Linked DNA regions of Homo sapiens. The protein of the gene in region 2 purifies or fractionates together with the protein of the main gene of each other region. This does not show direct contact. Each region holds a gene or a part of one and is shown on either strand. Other genes may lie near its edges.

What was found. Proteins that work in one complex are often made in the same cells at the same time.
Region 1: the proteins of COX7B (region 2) and AUH fractionate together in Homo sapiens (co-fractionation; one large-scale study listed by BioGRID). This does not show direct contact.

The regions. Positions count from the first base shown.
Region 1 is NC_000009.12:91,222,419-91,225,918, reverse strand, and holds part of AUH (methylglutaconyl-CoA hydratase, mitochondrial isoform 1 precursor), read left to right. Parts: intron 1-3,500. UniProt on the Homo sapiens protein: Catalyzes the fifth step in the leucine degradation pathway, the reversible hydration of 3-methylglutaconyl-CoA (3-MG-CoA) to 3-hydroxy-3-methylglutaryl-CoA (HMG-CoA). Can catalyze the reverse reaction but at a much lower rate in vitro.
Region 2 is NC_000023.11:77,902,468-77,905,171, reverse strand, and holds part of COX7B (cytochrome c oxidase subunit 7B, mitochondrial precursor), read right to left. Parts: intron 2,530-2,704; coding exon 2,405-2,529; intron 1-2,404. UniProt on the Homo sapiens protein: Component of the cytochrome c oxidase, the last enzyme in the mitochondrial electron transport chain which drives oxidative phosphorylation.

The sequences.
Region 1 (3,500 bases), on a different chromosome or scaffold from region 2:
ATACACCATGGAATACTATGCAGCCATAAAAAATGATGAGTTCATGTCCTTTAGGGACATGGATGAAATTGGAAATCGTCATTCTCAGTAAACTATCCCAAGAACAAAAAACCAAACACCGCATATTCTCACTCATAGGTGGGAATTGAACAATGAGACCACGTGGACACAGGAAGGGGAACAATCACACTCTGGGGACTGTGGTGTGGTGGGGGGAGGGGGGAGGGATAGCAGTGGGAGATATACCTAATGCTAGATGACGAGTTAGTGGGTGCAGCACACCAGCATGGCACATGTATACATACATATGTAACTAACCTGCACAATGTGCACATGTACCCTAAAACTTAAAGTATAATAATAATAATAATAAAAAAAAAGAACTGGCACTTTAGGAATCCTGAATTCAGATGCCTAAGGGAACTAGCAGATTATATCATCTAATCTAATGAAGCAAGCCTGGTGTAAAATAGTCAACTGACAGAAATAGGATACGCTATCTTCACTTTTACCCCTAACTCTAAGTTAATATTGGAGTTTGATATTCAGAATTAAGAAAAGGTGAACTGAAGTAATTTTTTTCTAGTTCTCCTCTTTACATTTGGAGCTTACAGTCTGATGCCAGGCATGGCATGCTAACTAGGGAGGCTGAGGCAGAAGGATCATTTGAGCCTAGGAGGTGGATGCTACAGTGAGCTATGATTGCACCAAGATTTTGGCACATCTCATCTTTTGGATTGGGATGTTTTTCTGCACTATTTGACTTCCTTAACCAGCAAGAATACTGAGTTTCATTTAGTTTAATTATAGAAAATGCGTGTTCATAAATTTAAGTACTTTCAAGCTGGAAAAGAATGTTGGCATAAAAAGTTTTGCCATTTGGGGTAACTATTCCGGAGATATTTGTAAAAATCTTAGATTCCATATCAATCATGTTTAGTTGTCCAATATTGCATTGTAACTTCCATTTGTAAAGTTCTTTGCTCATAGTATCATTAGTAATTGAGAAAGGCAGACTGAACAGATTATATCATTTTTATAAACCTTGAAATCATGAATTTTGTATGCCTGAGGGGTGGAGGGGACAGTTTACTTTCAGTTTCACACATGTAAAAATATATATAATTCAGGCCATCAGTCTTAGATTTCTGCAAACTGGGATAATTTCTTGCCAAACAAATGTTCTAAAAGTTAAAATTTCAGTGGGAATGAGTGAATGAAATCATGTATTTGTGTAATCATTTAAGAATGTCCCTTTCAGGAAATAGTGTTAGGAATACTTTATACCCTATGCAAAAATTAACACAAAACTGATCAAAGACCATAGCATAAGAACTAAAAGTATACAACTCTTAGAAGAAAGCATAAAGAAAAAGCTTTATAACATTGGATTTGGCAATAATTTCTTGGATATGACACCAGTAACACAGGCAACAAGAGAAAAAAGAGGTAAATTGGACCAAAATTAAAGACTTTTATGCATCAGGCACTATCAACAGAGTGAAAAGGCAACCCATGGGATGGGAGAAAATATTTGCAAGTCTATATCTGATAAAGGATTAATATCCAGAATATATAAAGAACTCCTGTAACTCAACAAATGAAACAACTCAAGACGCAAATTAAAAATAGGCAAATAACTTTAAATAGACATTTCTCCAAAGACAATATATGGATGGCCAATAAGCACATGAAAACTTAGGCGCTCAGCATGACTACTCACAATGAAATTGCTACCAAAACACCAGGGGTTTTGTCTAGGTCCTCCTGTTCACTGCACAGAAAGCCCATCACTGTCACGACAAGTATTGCCAAGGAAGAAGGCTTTAATCGGCTGCTGCTGCTGAGATGGGAGCTCAGCCTCAAATTCATCTCCCTAACCCACTAAAACTAGGGGTTTATATAGCAGGGAAGAAATGTAACAATGTGTAAGAAAACAAGAACTAGGGAGGGGCAAGGAGTCATCTGGTCTGGTGATCAGCTGAGTTTTGGTTCTTTGATACTTTTTTTGAAAGGCCTGAAGGTCCTTTTCTGGGGAAGAAACTCAAAACAGATGCAAGTTTCAAACTTTAACAGCAGAAGGGTCAATTTCTTTGTTTATCCAAAAAGAACTGTCTATGGGACTATTGGGTGGGTTTCAAAATGCTACTGCACACCCATTAGGATGGCTACTATAAAAAAAAATAGTAAGTGTTGGTGAGGGTGTAGAGAAATTGGAATTCTTGTTCTCTGTTGGTAGGAATGTAAAATGGTTTGGTGACTATGGAAAACATTATGGTGATTTCTCAAAAAATTAAACTGGAATTACTGTATGATCCAGCAGTCCCACGCTGTATATATTGAAAGCAGAATTGAAAGCAGGGTCTTGAAGAGATATTTGTATATCCATGTTCATAGCAGCATTATTCACAATAGCCAAAAGGTAGAGCAACCCAGGTATCCTTCCAGGGGTGAATGGATAAGCAAAATGTGGTATATACGTACAATGGAATGTTATTCAGCCTTAAAAAGGAATGGATTTCTGACACATGCTACAACAGAGGTGAATCTTGAGGACATTACGCTAAGTGAAACAGGTGAATCACAGAAAGACAAATACTGAACGATTCCATTTATATGAGGCAATAAAGTAGATGGCTTGTGATGTCATCCAAAAAGATCAAGTCCTGGATGCAGTGTTAGTGGGTGAGCCACGCCAAGGGTTTTCCCCTGGTTCCTGTGATGCATTGTTTTCAATGGGTCAGAAAGTTAGCTCTCTTCTGCACCATACCTCTAGCCTCCACCGCAGGCCCGCCAGCCATCTGTTGTGTTATGCATCCAGCTTAAGAAACAAAGCATCCAGCTGTCTACCCCTCAGCTTAAGGGACTGGGTCTTTTTCCTAGTGTTAGTTACCACCTACATGACCATTACTTTGTTAAGTTTCTGCAAAAATCCTCATACCTCAGGATCATGCTATAAGTGGAACAATATGATGAACGAGTTTGAGCTTCCGGGACTTGGAAAATGTTGTTTCTGTTGAATAAAAAGTGTGACATTAACAATGTGGGTCACATTTGTTAATTGTGACCAGTCTACATTAAACTTTTCATAGAACATGAGAAAGAACCATTTCCTAATATGCTTATCATGAATAATATATATTCATTAAGTTCTTCAGTCTCATCAAAATTCTCATCAGCTCCATGAGTAAATATAGTTATCTGAGTTATATTTATATCTGTGTTCTAATCAGCTGCCATTGGAAGCACCATAAATAGCTTGTCTTTTCCATGCAGCTTATCCCGTAAGTTCTCAGACCTATCTTTACTACACTGAGCAACATCATTGTCGAAAGTTAAATTTAAATTTGTCAATAATTCATTGTCTTCAGACACATATTTTCTGCCGTATCGAGTAAACACTTATATAAACTCACCATCTCTAACGGCTTGGGCAGCTTAAACACGTAATAACTGCATTTTGCGGTAGCATTATTGTATTTGTTTGAAAACAGTCTGTA
Region 2 (2,704 bases):
AAATGCTGTCAGTTACGTGTTTAAACCAGAGTACACTCTCTCGGAGACTATTTCTTGAAAATGACAGATATTCTGTTCTATAGGTTAAAAATACACAGAAACTCACCTGGGATCTAATACCCTCCATATAGGCCAAACCTGATTGCTGTCCTAATTTTCTAGAGCAGTCCTGTTGTTCAATAGAACTTCTTGAGCTGAAGGAAATGTTCTAGATCTTCACTGTTAAAAACAGTAGTCACTAGCTACATGTGGCTACTAGCCACCTGGAATATGACTAGTATCACCAAGGAAATGAATTTTTAAATTTTATTTAATTCAAATTTATACTTCACATTTCTATACTACCCACTCAATACACTGATTCCCTCAACCACAACTACCTAAGTAACTGCCAGAGTATTTTATATTCTCTGTATCACTAAGGAACATTTCACCTCCAAAAGCTCCTCTGATCAAACATTTGTTCAACATCTGTTTATCCTTCTAATTAAGCACACTTTAATTTTTTTTTTGAGACTTTTTTTTTTTTTGAGACAGTCTCGCTTTATCGCCCAGGCTAGAGTACAGTGGCACGATCTCAACTCACTGCAACCTCCACCCCCTCCAACTTCAGGCGATTCTCCTGCCTCAGCCTCCCAAGTAGCTGGGACTACAGGTGCCCACCACCACGCCCGGCTAATTTTTGTATTTTTAGTAGAGATGGGGTTTCACCATGCTAGTACCAAACTCCTGACCTCAGGTGATCCACCCGCCAGGGCCTCCCAAAGTGCTAGGACTACAGGCGTGAGCCACCATGCCCAGCCTAGGCACACATCTTAATATTTGATTTCAGGAAGATCAAAACAAAAACTAAAAAGGCCTATTTATTTAAATAAAGTTTATTACATTAAGGATTAATTTGTATCTTTTTAAACCAACTTATGCATTTATTAAGACTTCGGGCCGGGCGCAGTGGCTCACGCTTGTAATCCCAGCACTTTGGGAGGCCGAGGTGGGTGGATCACGAGGTCAGGAGATCGAGACCATCCTGGCTAACACGGTGAAACCCCATCTCTACTAAAAATACAAAAAATTAGCCGGGCATGGTGGTGGGCACCTGTAGTCCCAGCTACTCGGAAGGCTGAGGCAGGAGGATGGCGTGAACCCGGGAGGCGGAGTTTGCAGTGAGCAGAGATCGCGCCACTGCACTCCAGCCTGGGCGACAGAGCAAGATTCCATCTCAAAAAAAAAAAAAACAAAAAACAAAACAAAAAAAAAAAACACAGACTTCAGGACTCCTACTTTTAGCCAGTAAGTAACAGTGACTGAAAGATAGATTGTTAAATGTAAGATGTAAAGAAACTAAAATATAAAAAGATACATTACATCTCATCTGTCACGAATACTGTGCTAAGTTCTGAGTGTAAAATTTTAAAAGAAAAATTGTTAAGTGAAGTTATGTCCAGGAAGGCGATCCAAGACAGTAAAAATCCTGGAAACCATGAACAAAAAAATTACTGATAGAACTAAGGATGTTTAATTTGAAAAAGAAAATTGAGGAGATATGATAGCAATTTTCTATTATCTGATGGCTGTTATATGGAAGTGGGTCAGAATTTCTGTGCTTCAATGAACAATGGGTAGCATAGGAAAAAGGCAGATTTTAACTCACCATATGATCCTTTTAACAGCTACACAAGGCTGGGCACAGTGGCTCACACCTGTAATCCTAGCACTTTGGGAAACCAAGGCGGGCGGATCACCTGAGGTCAGGAGTTCAAGACCAGCCTAACTAACATGGTGAAACCCCGTCTCTACTAAAAATACAAAAATCTGCCAGGCGTACTGGAGGGCGCCTGTAATCCCGCTACCTGGGAGGCTGAGACAGGAGAATCACTTGAACCCAGGAGGCAGAGGTTGCAGTGAGCCGAGATCGCGCCACTGCACTCCAGCCTGGGCAACAGAGCAAGACTCCGTCTCAAAAAAAAAAAAAAAAAAAAATAGCCAGGCCTGGTGGCACACACCTGTGGTCCCAGCTACTTGGGAGCCTGAGGCAGAAGAAGTGCTTGAACCCAGGAGGCAGAGGTTGCAGTGAGCCAAGATCGCACCACTGCACTCCAGCCTGGGGGACACAGCAAGACTTCTTCTTAAAAAAAAAAAAAAACAAAAACAAAAAAAACAGCTACACAAGATGGAAAGGGCTGCCTTGTGATCCAGTAAGCAATTTATTACTGGGAATGTTAAGAACAGAAGATGGATGAATGCTGGGGGGAAAAAATCCCCTGCACTGTGTGGGTAATTAGATTACACAATCTCTCAAGTCCCTCCTAACTAGATATGTACACTACTATGTTAAGACACTTTGAATGCATAGACTGAGAATGAAAAACATCTGAAACAGAAATTATTAATCAATAGTACTTACATATGTCCATGTAACAATACAGAAAGTGGCTCCACTAGCTAATACAGCATTACCGTATTTGTCATGAAAATCAGGTGTACGTTTCTGGTGGCTCTGCCTTGCCATTGTTTGCTGAATGCTTCGAACTTACAGGAAAACGAAAAAAGAATACAGAAGCATATTATCAATTGTCAGGTAAAGAAAACATATGTGATTGATACTGCCAATCAGGAAAGCCAAGGAAGTTAATTTTACAGTATTATGTAGTTCAATAAAATGTTAAAACATATTGTAGCTATTAAAGCAGTGTACTTTGAAATG